Linked DNA regions of Homo sapiens: region 2 is linked to region 1. A link means that fine-mapping ties the variant in region 1 to the expression of a gene that starts in the linked region. Tissue or cell type: nasal epithelium. Region 1 holds a variant in brackets; the other region holds the start of a gene. All regions are shown on one strand. Distances are from middle to middle.

Evidence for each region. PIP is the estimated chance that this variant, and not a neighbour inherited with it, causes the effect.
Region 2: it holds the start of ADAMTS12, and the variant in region 1 is fine-mapped to the expression of ADAMTS12 in nasal epithelium (TOPMed, PIP above 0.99).

What each region holds. Positions count from the first base shown.
Region 1 is chr5:33,682,558-33,690,664 of GRCh38, forward strand. It overlaps ADAMTS12 (ADAM metallopeptidase with thrombospondin type 1 motif 12), which reads right to left. Exons shown (of 24, transcript NM_030955.4): 4 at 1,302-1,498; 5 at 461-544. Among named protein-coding and RNA genes, the nearest start is that of ADAMTS12, 210 kb to the right of the region's middle. The variant G/C (reference allele first, on the strand shown) is at 4,006.
Region 2 is chr5:33,886,915-33,895,021 of GRCh38, forward strand. It overlaps ADAMTS12 (ADAM metallopeptidase with thrombospondin type 1 motif 12), which reads right to left and starts at 5,076. Exons shown (of 24, transcript NM_030955.4): 1 at 4,816-5,076. The coding sequence starts at 4,942. It also overlaps the pseudogene RNU6-923P. RefSeq lists enhancers at 4,358-4,859, 4,860-5,359.

The DNA.
Region 1 (8,107 bases):
CTGAGAATAGATGAAATCCCCAAAGGTAAACGTGCAGATAGACAAGAGGTCCCAAATCTGAGAGGCTTGTGTTAAATATGCAAGAAGTAAATTAGTAGTATCAAAGGTTCGACATTTCCATGTCTTTCTTACCTTTTACTGAAACCATCCAACCATGTCATGATTTAGTCTATTTCTTTTGCAGAACATCTTTAGTGACTGCGGTGAGTCTCATGTGTATGTTATTAGATACAATGACTGTCAAGAGATTTCAACTATGTATATTTTGGAAATGTTATCCACATCCCGCTCAGTATCACTGAACTCCCAAGGGAATAACACAGAAATAATATTTTCCTTCTCGATGGGCTTCCAAACACTTTCTGGTACCCTCTTTCTTGTCTACCAAGAACTCCCCTGAAAAAAAGAAGGTAGGAAGTGCGAGGACATATAGCAGAAGAGTGAAGGGAAAAAATGTTACCTCTTCTTCTTCGAGTAGAATGAGCCGAACCACAACAATGTGAATTGCATTGCCAATGCTTGGGTTATGGAACAACCCAGTGACCTAGGGTCAGAAATAGAAAACCATTAGCTCCACACGAAGAGATAATAAATAAATACCAGAGAAGAAAATAGCATTGTAATGCACATAAAATAAAGGTTTTCTTATAGGTCAGAAATGTTTGGCGGTGTGCTAAGAAGAGTGAAATATGCCCACAGCTCATTCCACATTACAATATTTAAACAAAATCTTTCAGGGTGATAGCTTGGCTGTGTGTTTGAAGGATTAACATTTTTCTTTTCTTAACCCAGCCCACAGTATTCTCCTCTTCTATTATCAGTTACTCAGGCAAATACCTTTTCCCACCTCAATAGGACTAACATCTTCTTGAAGGCAGAAAACATCAACAATGCAAAGAGAAAGCTTGAAATTAAGAGTCATTAACTTTATTCCAATTCTATTTCTAACTACTTTGAGGAAATTATGTTCTAGTTCTTTGCCTCAGTTTACTCCTTCGGTTTACTAACATAAACTGATGAGACAAAGCCACACGAAAAGGATTGAGTCACTTGGAAAATACCTACCAGAAGTATGTAACTAATAAATTATAAAATGTTCCCAGGATACACATCTTTAAGGGAAAGACTAATTCATCCTGAATTTCCATCCATATTCATCCTTAGGCAGGTACTAGATTCACATATATATTTATAAAAATAAGTTAAAAGGACCCCAAAAAGGCCTTTCTTATTTATTTATGTAAGCATTTCTAATGACATCTGTTCACTAGCTGCCCCAGCCCCCATGTAGTCTGGCATACCATGTTCATGATGGTGAGGATGTAGGACTCCACATTCTCACTCCCATGGTATTCAATCATCTTTGTGTCGGCCACCACCAGTGTCTCCACCCATCTCTCCTTGCTGATGGAACGCCGAGAGAGGCTTCTGCTTGGCAAGTTGTGCCTCTCCCACTTCTCCCGCCATAGCTCTTGCTTCTGGGAGATGTTAACACTGTCTAAACAGTAAACAGAAGACAATGGTCTAACACTGTATATGTCTCATATATTATCTACTTATGTTAGTAAAGATGCAAGGCCATAAGTTTAATTTACATTTAATAATATAAACGCAATGTTTTTACGTACATAACCAAAATAGACCAATTTAAATGAATATGACCAAGAGAAATTTGAATCTTACAGAGAGGTTCAAAAAGTACTTTATAAAAATGTTTCTTACCTATTACATTAAATTATGTCTTCCACTATTGAAAAGACGTACCCAACAATGGGAACTTTCTCTTTCTTCTCCTCCTTTAAATTATTTAGTGCCTACTGTGTGCAAGGCAATATACCTGGCTTTTAAATGCCACATTGTTTATCCTCATGAATGACAGAGGTACATATTCTTCTCTCCATTTTGCAAATGTGGAAATTGATGCTCAAAGTGGCTGGTTAAATAACTTACCCAGAGTTGTGCAGCCCATCAGTCAGTAAAAGATCCAGTACTTTCTATGCCCCAAAATCATGCATTTTTAAAAATATACATCACACCGTTTCCAACAGAGTAAACATGTATAAAACTGTAGTATATATAAGCTGAAAACCTGCCAAAGGTTCCAGGCATTCCACTTGAAGAAGGCACAAAAAGAGGTGGAAAAGATCCAAAGGACAGCAAAACTATCAAGGTGACTAACAGGTTTTAGTATGAAAAGGATTTGATACATGAGGGTCATGGTTTGGAAGACGAAATCTAGGAGAGGCTATAGAATGATAAAGAAAGTCAGACAGTAGCTGCACGGAATCATTCTCAAAATCCCAGAATACTGTAAGTAGGGAGCATATTCTAACTTGAAAGAGGTCTGTTTAACACCAAAACGAATAAAAGGCTACTTCGCACATCAGGAAGCAGGTACTTAACCCAAGTGGAAGTCAAGTGTAAAAAGTTCCAGTGGGCTCAGAATGGCTTAGGGAGCCGAGGAAGACAGGTTGACCAGAAGAGAGTAAAGAAAGAAGCCTGGGCTGATACAGGGCAGCGCCTGGGTCTTTGAAGATTCCTATCAGGATCACAGCCACAAACACTTCCTGCCTCTCCCTCATCTGCACCCTGGGCCCCTGGCAGGGGCAGAACATCGAAGCAGAGTGGCAAACCTCATGTCCCCTTCCTAATCTCTGGTAATGGCCATCCAGTCTGAACTTGAAAACTTCCAGCAGGAGGAAGGGACACTCAACAACTCACAGGGCATCTTGTTCTATTGGGAAATTCTCGACTGCATTGAGCTGAAACCTGCCTCTCTGTCATTCCTCCTCGTTAGCTCTGGTCCTGTTCTCTGAAGCATCTAGGACTATACCTCCTCCTGAGGCCCTGCCTCAGACCCTGAGTTGGGACAACTAACACCATATCCTGCCCTCTCCCTTGGTACTCTCTAGGCTGTGGAGTTGCTTACACTGATTTGTGTGTAACCCTTCCTGGTTCCTCAGTTTCTCTGTCCATATGAATTTAGACATGTTTGGCGATATTGACAAAAGAAATGAAACATCATCATAGGTCTAAATAAATTCAAACTCTAGCGTTGTGAGTTTTACTTCAAAATAATAATGCTGTACTTCAATATAACACTTCTGAGAAATAATCTAGGATTATGTAAACTTTGGAGGGAAGTCCTGTGAAGATTTAAAAATGGGGAGATGGTTAACCCCTCATTTGTGCTGGAACCATTTTCTAGTTTCCTTCTCCACTCACTTTGCATGGGGAAGCATGAATTCCCTAAGAAATGTCAAGATTTTATCAATGGTTTCTAACTTTCTGAAACCCCCTCCCTCATTGCCCCATCAGCTTTTTGTCCCTGTTTTGAATCTCACATGAATGTTTCAAACCGCTATCTGCTTTCAAATGTCTCTGTGTAAGCCAAGCAGCCAGCCCACTTTAAGCCCACGTGGGCTGGTGTTTTCTGAAACGGCTGTTACAGGTTGGGCTGAGTACAGGAATCCTGTCAACATGGATTCGGTCTCATCTTTCTCTAAGGCCCCTCCTATTTTGCTGGGTGGGGACAGGTCTGTTCTAATCAGGAGGCTGCTCCATGCCGCCCTGACCTTGTGTGTGAGGGTGACTGGCAGACAGTTTTCTCACCCAGTGCCCTCACAAAGCCCTTGGGGCCTTAGCCCTTCTTCTCCCTTGGCCCCCGCAGGCTCAGCCTCCCTCCCCTGGGTGCCGGTCCCCTCACAGAGGCTTCAGCTCACCTCAGCAGGCAAAGACTGTGCTGTGCACAGCCCCTCATTAAAGCAGAACCCTGTGCTCCTGGCTGCAGCCTCAGTCCCCACCCTCAGATATCTACCGTTAGGTGCTAGCAGGAAGCTGTCATGGGTGAGAAGCGTGTAGAAAAAAGAAGTAGTTTCTCTGCTTCCCTTGGTCCTGTGTTTCTTTACTTCTTCTTTACTCTCCCCTTTTTCTACCTTTTATCCCTCAGTGTTGAAAAAGAGAGTTGCTAGGCACTGAATGTTTGCATCCTGCCCAGACGCAGAT[G/C]ATGAAGCCCTAATCCCCAAGGTAATGGTATTTGAAGGTGGGGCCTTTAGTTGGCAGTTAGATCGAGATGAGCTTGTGACAGTGGAGCCCCCATCATGGGATTAGTGTCCTTATAAGGAAAGGAAGAGACATCAGAGCCCTCTCTTTCTCTCAGAGAGAGGAGACATGAAGACACAGCAGGAAGATATATACACCTCTCTCTCTATATATATATATATATTCAGTGCCTATATATATAGAGAGAGAGAGGGAGAGAGATGTATATATCTTCCTGCTGTGTCCTCATCTGTCTCCTCTCTCTCTATATATATATGTAGGCACTGAATATATATACACATATTCTCTATATATAGGCACTGAATATATATATATATAGAGAGAGAGAGAGAGAGAGCAAGAGAGAGAGAGATCTTGGACTTGATCTTGGACTTCAAGTCTCTAGAATTGGGAGAAATAAATTTCTGCTGTTTAGGACACCCAGTCTATAGCATTTTGTTATAGCAGCCTGAGCTAACTAAGACATGAGTTTTTTTTTTTTAAAGACATCTTTAAAGTCCAAGTTACTTTCATTTTTCCAGCAAATAGGTAGTTACTCAGTAGTAAACAGTCATATAGGAGGAAATGTGGAAATGAGAGATGAGGTCTGCTAAAGGCATATATCTATTTGAAATTTTTCAACAAAACCTACATTAAGCACTTATGAAAGTTCAGGTCCTATACTAAGCACATAGCACCATACCTCATTTAACTTGCCAAAAATCTATGAGATAAGCCCTCTTATGATCACCATCTTATAGATGAAGGACCCGAGGCTCAAAAAGATTAGGTAATTTTCCTAAAGTCACATAGTAAATGACAGATTCAGCCATCTGTGTGATTCCACTACAGCAAAAACAAACATTTATACAATAGGTTTTCTGGGCAAGGCCCAAGTTACTCTCCTGAATAGAGACAAAGGAGTATGTGACGTGATCCTTGACTTTATGCAAAAACCAATCTACTTGTGGGTAATGAGACATGAACATAAGAAAAATTGTCATCACTGGGGTTCAAGTAATTCCCAAAGAGAAATATCAGTTATATTATAGATAGTGCCGGAAGCTTTGCGGAAGTGGTAAGATCTGAACTGGGCCTTAACAGGACTGAGCTGGGGGAGAGGACTGTATATATGTGGGCTGACTCTGCGGAGTTCTAGTGAAATCTCAGATTTGATGGAAGAAATGTTTCTGCTACGCAATTTCAGAAAGTACAAGAAACCAGCCCTACACATTTATCTCTAAAGCTGATGACAAAGACAGCTAGTTCTTTGGGTCAGGTGAGGGGCTGATGATTCTGGGAAGCTCCCCTCACTATTTCCCATCATACACATCACTCTGTTTAGAGACCCCTCTTCTCAGCTGGCATAGCTTCTGGCCACACCTCAACCTGAGTACTTTTTATATTGCTATAATTTCCTGTTTTAAATAACAGGACTCTCTAATTAGGCTTTAAGCAACTAAAGGGCTAGAAAAACATCTTCTTTGGCCTTTGCCCCAATCCTAACACCATAACAGGCAAAAGTGGCACCCAGTAAATACCAAATGCACAAGCAAAGAACTGAAGATGAATCAGAACCAATGTATGAACCACAAGCAAAGAAGAATTGCCAGGTTTGTCCATTTTTTCCATTCGATGACTTTTTTCATTTAAGGAATTCTCCCCACTGAGACCATGACATGTTTGTTTCAAGCAGAGAAATCCAGCCAAACGGGCAGCTTAAGCAAGGAAAATTTCCAGTGCTGAGAGAGGACAGTGAAATGATTTTCCTAAATGGAAGCTAACAGAGTGCAGATGTCTGTCCAGCGTTGTCTGAGGTGCTCAGGATACCTGACCACTAACAGAACAGAAGTCCTAGAAGATCCCTGGAAAATGCAATTTACCGAGTACTTTTTCCTTCCCCACATACTGCAGGCAGCTCTTCACAAAGCTCTATTTAGGGATTTTGCAGATGGCAGAGCCCTCACCTGCTGATCTCTGAGTCAGTGTCCACGGCAGCCAGGCATGGATCACGCCTTGACGAAGCCACACAGAGAACCTGGAGTAGTGCTAGGGAGCAAAGAAACTGAACATAGATGGCAGAAGACTCTGGAAATTACAGTTTCCAGTACATTCTGGAGTGCTTTTTAACATGCCAGTAGTTTCCAGTGTGAGCAATGAGGCTGCTTATTCTACTTAGAAAATTGCTCAAGGCTCTGCCTCCAGCCCAACCCTTCCCTCATCTGGATTCTCTTCTACACCCTTATATCAGATTTCCAACAGAGAAGGATTTCTGCCCAGCCCACGCAGGTTGACCACTAACTGGACATTGGCCACTAATTACTACTGCCTTGTTTGAGGTCCAGCTTCCCCCAAGATGACCTTCTCAAGTTGATCTTCTCCAGCCTACACTGCAGCTTCCAGACAAATGAGACCCAGTACCCTAACTGTCCCACCTTTCTGTCACCACTTCTGCAAGGTTTCTGAAACATGACACCTGGGCAGCAACACAGCAACATAGACACTAACAGCCATCTGGGATCCAGTGCCTATCAAGAGCCCAACTGGTGCTAAACACTCTTGGATTTGATCATTTATCTTAATTCTCACATTAAAACATGTAGTAAATCTTATTGTCATTTTAAAATGAGAAAGCTGAGACACAGAGAGATTATAGAGTTTATTCAAAGTCTCATAGCCAGTAAGCAGCAGGACCAGCATTTTAGCTGGTTTAGTGTGAATCTTATTTAACTTAGTGGCATGGAGATGGGGATGGGGTTTCTGGGATCATCTGCCTAATAAAATTTCAGCATGAGGAATGGAAAGGATCAACTCAAAAAAAAAAAATCATACATAGAAGAAGTTCGACCCCAAACCAGCTGAGTCCTAGTCCTCCAGGTCCCCACCAGTCTTCAGCAATGCATGAAGGACATTTGTCTACGAGTGCAGTAGGAGGTAGGTGACCTTTTGATACTAGATTTCTGGAGACAATATCCTGCTTCTTTATATAACTCAGACAAGTGCTACTCAGGGAAGATATTCTGGACCCAGTGTTGAGGGCTGGAGAGATGGTACCAGGAAAAAAGAAGGAAAGCATCTTAAGACTAATAGGTCCTATCCAGGCCCACTATTGATAGCTGCTTGCTCCCCATGCCTACTGGCCTGACCCAAACCACCTGTGACCTTGGACAAATATTACTATCTCTTCCCCTGTCTAATGAAGAAACTGAATTGAATTCCTATTTTTTTAAGGGTCATGGAACCTTTCCTTGATACAAAGATTATGCAAAAAGTAAAGAAAAGAATGAACCCCAAAGTTGCTGGGGTCATGGGGTGTGGTGGGTGGCCCCAAAGGGGATTCCACATGGTGCATCTTTAAACCACCAGCTGACACCATATCTGGGGTTCTTCCAGTTCTAGTGTTCTCTGAGTTGGGCGAACACACGTTCCCACTGCCAAGGCATAATTGTGAGCTATCTGCCACTACCACACACTTGCACCCAGATCCTCTTCTTGGCAGGTCATTGTGGCCTTCCCCAGCAGAGTCAAACACCAGTGCAGGTGTGTGCATCCATTAGCAACAAGGGCTGAGCAGCCCGAGGGGCCCATCTCTCCAGGCCAGCTTGGGTATATTTGAAGGGTCTCTGTAGGAAGCTCATTTTTACTCCACAAAAAGTTTACCACACTAACTGAGAACAAAAAATATTTTTTTACATTTAAGTAACAGACTATCCATTTCTCAAAACTGGCCATTGTTGAAGTACAAACAGCTGCCTTTAAAGAAAGAAATGAAGCAACCTGAGTCTAAGTTGTTAGAAACTGCTAGATCCCCAAAACAAGTACATCCTAGCTTAAGAGTATGGACAAAAAGTATAAGCACCTGAAAAAAAAAAAGAAAGAAAGAGATGTATTCTCAAAGGCTGGATGGTCCTGCCTGACACTGCACTCACTTCATTCAGAATATGTCAAAAAGGAAGATGGAAATGGTAGATCATTTGGGACACATGACTCTTCCCAAAATACCAACATAATTACATCAAATGTAAGTAAAAAGGATGTTTGAAGATCCTTCCAGAGAGTCAATAAT
Region 2 (8,107 bases), 200 kb after region 1:
ATTGTGCTTGACAAATAACATTCATTAGCTAAACATTAGCATTGTTGGTTTTAAAGGTAGGAACTTGGCTACCCGGGATCACTGTGGACATAAACATGTGTAACCTCCAAGCAGAGACAGGAGAGAAGCCCACACTCACCATAGCCTCCTCTCCGCAAGCTAAGATTAGTTTGGCAGATTTGTTAGCTATAATCTTGGCCAATGAAAGCAGAACTCAGAGGAGATATGACAGCGATGGAGAAATAGGTGTCAAGAAATAATAATAGCTCCTAATTTTTATCATTTCTATGGTCAAGTACTACATTAAGAGTATGCCGGCTTGGTCTTATCTAATCCTCACAGTTCTCTGAGTAAGCATTATTAACTGTATCCCTCATCTGGGACTATACTTCCATCTCCGTAAAGTGACAACAGTGAGGGATGAGGATTTTTTCCTGGGCAATCGGATCCCAGAGCACACACTCCTAAGCTCTGCCCTCACTGTGTGCATCTCCAGGGTCTGTCACCTAGCACAGATGTCAAGGCGGGTTGTCAATAAGGTGTGGGGTTGGGAGGGCCAGAGGCTGAGATACATGAAAATTACATCACAGTTTATACAAGGGTTTGTAGAAATATTATAAGCTCCAAATACTTTGATTTGCCTTGTTTAAAATTATATTTAAGGCCTCAGTCCACAAGTTTCAATGGTACTTCATGAGAAATTCAAGTAAAGGCTACTGGCACAAGCACTTTTGAAAACACAAAACAAGGCATCTTTTTCCCTCAGCTTAGAAAGGACAGAGGTAAGAGAATATTTACCTACTAGTTGTATACAGTTTAGGCTCAGTCTATAGTAGTTATTCTTTTTTTTTTTTTGAGACAGAGTCCTGCTCTGTTGCCCAGGCTGGCATGATCTTGGCGGCCCACTGCAACCTCTGCCTCCAGGGTTAAAGAGATTTTCCTGCCTCAGCCTCCTCAGTAGTTGGGACTACAGGCATGCACCACCACGCCCGGCTGATTTTTGTATTTTTAGTAGAGATGGGGTTTCACTGTGTTGGCCACGCTGGTCTCGAATTCCTGACCTCAGGTTATCCACGCACCTCGGCCTCCCAAAGTGCTGGGATTACAGGCATGAGCCACCACGCCGGCCTATTCTTTTTTCTTTTTAATGGAACGCTTCACAGATTTGCATGTCATCCTTGAGCAGGGGCCACGCTAATCTTCTCTGTATCGGTCCAATATTAGTATATGTGCTTCCAAAGCGAGCATTATCTGTACTTATTCTTTATATTTATTTCTATCTTAGAGACAATTGAATTTCTCAGATCCCTTTCTAAAAAACAAGATTATGAAATTCCTGTAATAGAGGTTTATTTTCATAATTATCTTCCATGTAAGATAACTGTAACCTTGCAACGCTATTTTTATTATAGAAATTTACACATGTTGGAATGTTGTGAAGAACTGTGTTGGGCTCCTCAAAATTGTAAAGTATGCCACAGAAGGTTGGATTTGCTCATAAACTTTATGATAACTAATGTGCTAACTGTATAGATTATTATAATCAACACAAAATATCAAATCTGTGAACTCTCTTTTTACATTAAGAAAATAGCTGAAATCCTTTCCTCCTTGCAGAATTTTTTTAATAGAATACATAAATAATTAAAACTCTTATCTGAAAACACTGCAACATTCCCTCTGTTTCTTGCACAAGCCTGGAGTTCATCTCTAATATGGAATAAAGTGACTGTCCTGTTGATTTCACAGAGATGTCAGGAGCAAAAGAGGTCATGGAACAGACTGGCGCTTTGTAAACAGCATAGGGGTAAACAAACCTAAGGGGATATGATTGGCTGTAGAAGACACGCAGCATGTTGTGTGCAAGATTAATATTTCCCGTTGTTCTGATACTTGGTTGTGAACCAAGAAATCCTGTGTAAGTCACAGCACATTCCTATATCACAACTGAGCAATGTGGAAAGAATACTGGGCAGTTAGTCAAATAGCCTGTTTCTATGTTTCTAGTCCCAGAAAGGACTGGATTTATCTCCATACTCCTTCCAACGACTAAAATCCTGACTTAGCCCAACTCTTAGAACTAGAAGGAACCTAAAAGGTAATGTAGTGTCTGAATCTGTCTCCAAATGTGGAACCCTGTGCAATTCCCTTTACCCTCCTCGTGAAGGGGCATTTATTAGGTGCTCAATCATATATGTTGACTAACTGATGCCCTAGACCTCCCATTCCTTATCCATAAAAGTAAAAATGGGGGCGAGGCATGATGGCTCATTCCTGTAATCGCAGCATTTGGGGAGGCTGAAGTGGGAGAATTGCTTAAGGCCAGGAGTTCAAGATCAGTCTGGACAACATAGCTAGACCTCATCTCTATTAAAAAAAAAATTAAATATTTCAAAAATAAGAATGGGTGAGATGATCCTGAAGTAATTTGCAAGTTTAAACGTTCAGGATTTGAATGCATTCAAAAATGCTATCAAAGTGGAAATGGAAGTCTAAGGAGATTGGTTATTTGTGAGGCTGTAGGTAGGTCATTTGGAGGGAAAAACCCAGGCCATCCTAATCCCAGATAGCCTTAGAATTTCATTCTCTACTGGTTTGCCCTCATCCATCCCTTCCTCCCTCTTTGTGACTTTCCTTCTTAATTCTAAATGTAAGTCTGCTTAGAAATTTCTCCTTTGCACCAAATGTGGATTATTTGTAAATCCACTAGGGAATTGATTGTGGTTGGTGAAATGCTTTTAAAAACTGAAATTATTGGCTGGGTACAGTAGTTCACACCTGTAATCCCAGCACTTTAAGAGGCCAAGGTGGGCAGATCACCTGAGGTCAGGAGTTGGAGACAGCCTGGCCAACATGGTGAAACCTCGTCTGTACTAAAAATACAAAAATTAGCCGGGCATGGTGGCACACGTCTGTAATCCCAGGTACTTGGTTGGCTGAGGCAGGAGAATCACTTGAACCCGGGAGGCAGAGGTTGCAGTGAGCTGAGATTGCACCACCGCACTCCAGCCTGAGAGACAGAGCAAGACTCAGCCTCGAAAAACAAAAACCTCTAATTATTTTTAAACCTAAATAAATATATATATCACCAATAAGCTTGGAGCACTTTATAGGTTTTTTGAACAGTGGATACTCTCAGCACATAGCTCTAGATAGAGGTGACTAGGGAAAATAATCATATCTCACTTTCCAGAGAGCAAAAACCATGGCCCCGTGGTGTCTGCTTCACACCAAGCTGAATTCCCTTACAAAGAAGATGTGGAGCAGAGCTGAAAACCAACCCAGGAGAATGTGTGTCTTTGAACGAAATCATCTCCAAATGCCCTGGGAAGTGCTTGCAGGCTTTGTTTGTGCTGCCCCAGAAGGGAGACTTTTCACAAAGGAACTGTTTTTCAAAGAACAACAAGCCCTGCTATTTTAAACTTGGGGGTGGGAGATTGTATCTGGACCGTTTACACAAGTGAGTGCTGGCTGACTGACATCTAACCCCAGTGTTTGCTGGCTCCAGCTTTCCAAGTAAAGCAAAGAGAGGGACTTGCTTCTGATACGTCTTGAAGCCACAGCAGATGAGTTGTCCAGCAATATTTGAATTTTACAACATGAGCAGAAAACCCTGCTTAGAAATCCTAAACAAGGACAGGCTGGTGATGTTTATCACCCGAGTGGCCTTGGGAATTAAAGGGATGTCAGAAAGTCATGGAGGACACTTCCCGAGGCTTCAGCACAGTCAGCAAACACAGGACTTAGTGCATGCTAACCCAGTGCTCTGTGTGCGTGTGCATGCGTGTGGGTGCATATGCGTGTGTGTGTGCGTGTGTGTCCCTATTATTGCTACAGGACAGTGCTGCATGATTCTAAGAGTCAGACTACCTGAGCTGAAAACTCTGCTCTACATTAGCTGGCCTCATAAGCTCTCCAAGCTGCAGCATCCTCATCTGTACAGCAGGGACAGCAACACTGGTACCTGCACCCTGGAAGGCTATTGCCAGTGATCGGATGGGCTGACACAGAGTGCCACGCGGGCCATTGCTGCTGCTAGGACTGTTTACCCCCAGAGGTACAATGAACCCCCCACCAAACATGAAGGTGCCTCTGACCCTTCCAAGTCCAATAAACTGCTGACTGTTAGGCTTAAAAGAATAAAACAACAACAACAAATTGTCCACCAGAACGCTTCCAATGCTTCCTACAATAACATGAGTTCAGAAATTCATAAAGAGAAGCAGCCAGCTGTGGTCAGTGAGACAGGACAGGAAAAAGTGAGCCCTTATGGAGGTATAGTTCCCCCAAAAGGACTATTCTTTCAAAAATACAACCCTAAATCTTTCCAGGAAACCAAAACACAGCCAAGCCTGCTCAGTAGGGGGGAAGAATCACATTTCCCCTTTCCTGACCAGAGGTTTAAAACTAACTAGAAACACTGCAATGACGGCCAGTAGCCAGTTAGCACTTAAAAAAAAAATTTTCCATGTTTAGAGTCTGAAAAATAGGGGATCAAAACAGTACAGCATTCAAAGAGGAGACAAAAGAGAAAAAGTTACCAGCTACCTCTTGGGTCTTTCAAAGACTGCAGTGTCATCCCTGTAAAAGAGTGAGGTACTCACCTTTCTATAAGAATGAAGGACTCATCACCTTAAGCACTGAATTCTGAGAAAGCCTAGGCTCCTGAGGTCCCAGCCCAGATTTCCTTACAACGCAGCCAAATGGCTTTTCAGAGTTCAGTTCTGCCGGGTGGGGGAAGGGAAAGGGGAGCAACAAAATTCCCGCAAGTCTTACCACCACTGTTTTAAAAAGAAATAAAGAAGAGTCACTAACCTTGCCTCCTGTCCGGGAAGCGAACCGGGCCTGGCTGAGGCTGTCTCCCATAGCAAAGCGCCCCAAAGTTAAGGAGCTGAGCCACCACGGAAAGGTTTGCAAGCCAGCTCCTCTGGGCACATGGCATGATTCAGATGTTGAGGAGAAGAAAAGTCAAAAAAGTTTTAGCCCTCAGCTCCAGAAATAAAGCGCTCGCCTGTGGCCCAGCAGGAAGATGCAGGGGTGCATGGTCAGGCGCGAGAAGGCAGCGACTGCAAAGCTGCCCGCGATCTCCCTGTGCTTTTTTAAGCAGAAAGGAGCTAGACACCTTTTTCCCCTCCCTCCTCCTAAAAGGGGAGTGATTCAGCTGACAGTGTCCGCTTTCGGCGGGGTGTGGAATGGGCCAGAGCGGGAGGGCGCAGCCCACCCCGGTCCCCACCCCTCCGCCTCCCGCATGCCCCGCGGCCTCGCAGCCCGCCCGCTCGGTGCATCTTCCTCCCGGACTCCCACCCCCGCGCTCCTCCGGCCCCGCCCCGAACGCCAGGCCCAGCTGGCCGAGCCGGCCAAATAGGGGAGACCCGGGAGAGCCGCCCTGGGAGGCACTGGAGGAAGCTGCGAGTGAGAGGCCCCCAGGCCAGCCCCCCGGCGTGCTTAAATACAAGCTCAAAATGAGGAGAACAGAGTTGAGGCAGAGGGGGGCCCCACTCCCTCCATCCTTCCGCGCTCAGCGCTGCCCCCTCCCCTGCTGTTCTCCTCCAAGTTCCTGAACTTTTCCCAACATCGCTCTATCAAGACTCCTCACCCACTCGGACCGCTCTGGGATTCTCTTCCACTGGAAAAACTAATAGGCGATTTTTCTCTTTGCCAAGTCACACAAAGGGAAATGGGCTGCGCTAATCTGCTAATGTGACCTCAGACAAGCCCCCTCAGCTGTGCAATGAGGTGACTGCTGCAAATGCCTGTGGGCCCCTCTGAGTCTGCAGATCTCTGTGCGGCTCTTCTGATTCTAGAACCCCATCTTTCCTAGCCCACCTCCATTCACTCAAAAGGAAACCAGGAATTAAGTCAACCCAGGAAGGTGTTAAGGTATCTCCCCAGTTTCCCTGAACTGGCTACCCTGGAGAGGGCGTCCATTCATTCAGAGGCTCAAGCTTTTACATCGGTCAGAGAATGCCACAATCCAGGACGCTTGCCAGGCATCTTGAGAATTTACTGGGCTAATCCAGCCAAGATTTTTCACCTCTGAGCTGAAACAGGCCTCCTTACTCCATTCAGGAAGAATTCGGCCCCCAATATTGACTTTTCCCTGGCTGCCAGCCAACCACATGTGTTAATCAAGAGTTCTGGGATACCAGCTTACTCAACCTTGTATAGGGACAGAGCCTCCAAGGCAAACTCAGTGGTCTGAAAGCAAGGTGGTCCTCTCAGATGTGGAACACATGGGCACCAAGACTTTGAGAGGTATATGCTAGTTTCCTATTTTTGGTGTTACAAGTTACCATAAATTCAGTGGCTTGAAACAACTCAAATTTCTTATGTGACAGTTCTGATCTGAAACTGGTCTCACTGGGCTAAAATCAAGGAGTTAGCACAGCTGCATTCATTTCTGAAGACTCTAGGGGAGAATCTGTTGTCTTGCCTTTTCCAACTTCTAGAGGCTGCCTGAATTCCTCAGCTCATGGCCCTCTTCCCCCATCAAAGCTAGCAATGGCCCTTTGAGTCTTTCTCACATCACATCACTCTTCTTCCTCCCTTTTCCACTTATAAGGACCCTTGCGATTACATTAGACTCATCCTGGTTAACCAGGACACTCTCCTAATCAGCTGATTAGCAACCTTAATTCCATCTGCAACCTTAAATCCCCTTTACGTGTAACAGAACATGTTTTGTTGTCACAAGCAAGTAAAAGAACTACTCTGAGCCTTTTTTCTGTTACGTAAACATTAGGAAGCAGGATCACAACTGGAGTTAAAAGACATTCAGATAACACAGGCATGATGACCTGCATTTGCAAGGGCATTGAAGAACAACTTTGGGCTAGAATTCTTTTTGCTTCTTTTCTTTTCTTCCTCTTCCCCTTCTTCTTTGCTTCCCTTCACCCTTTCCTTGTTTCTCTCTCCTCCTTGTACTCTTCTGTCACTCTTCTTCTTCCACCTTTTTTTCTCCTGCTGCTCCTTTTAATAGCAAGCAAGATCTTGTCCAAAGGGCAAGATCACTCCTAGCTCCCAGGTCCTGGAGAAGAGATTTGTCTCTCAGGCAGAAACCTGAAGAACTCTGGAGAACTGCTGAGTTCCACCAATATCAGGGATGATACACTGAACACTCTGGCTTCACAGTTTAGCCTCTTCAACTCTAATGGCATTTCCCTTATTCTTTCTCCCATCTACTCTCAAGACCATAACCAGGAATATCTATTATCCATAAGTCAACCAAGACTGAAATATTAAAATTATAAAATCCCACCAACACTTTGTATTCTGCCAGCCCTTCCAAACCTTTATACCCAGTACCTCGGATCTTCAGCCTAGTAGGAACTTCTAGTTCCTTGATCTCCCCATCTTTGGTTTTCTAATAATCAGCATCTCTCTGGACTCACCACCTTTTTTGCCCAGTCATACCCTTTGATCCACCTCCTTAAACCAGTACATTCAACATCTCATATCTTCCTCATCAAAATCTAACTCTGTTTTACCCTAGCTGCTGATTTTCTCTGCTCTCTGTTTCCAAGTGCTGTTGAAAAAACTCACATAATTGCATCTAATTGTGCAACTATCAATTCATGTCTCCAACTTTAGCACGTTCTCAACATGACTTAGCACAAATATACATTCTGCTACTATTCTAACGTTCCTCCTACTCTTTCCAGAATTTACAAAAATCTCTCCAAAGCTTGGAGTTACCTCAGCGTAGAGAGACTTAATCCTCCTCAACTTTGCTTCTGCTTAATGAGAAAAGGTAACAAATCCCCTTGGTGACCAAGGTTGGTAGCAATAAAAAAGCCAACTACCTCTCCTGCCCACTGTAGATAGCAGAACTGTGAATCACTGCATAGTATCCAAACTACCTCTGAGCTTATACAAACATGCTGCCCTTGAGGAAACACTACAAAACCATGCAAGATTCCAGAGTTGAATGATAGCTAAGAATAGCAAGCATTTATTACATGCTGACTATATGCTTGGCTCTGTGCTAAAGACTATATGGGTATTGCTTTACTTAAACTTCATAAAAAACTTATTATGTGGGTACCATTAGTATCTTCATTTTATAGATGAGGAAACAGACACTGAAAGGTTAAGTAACTTGCCTAGG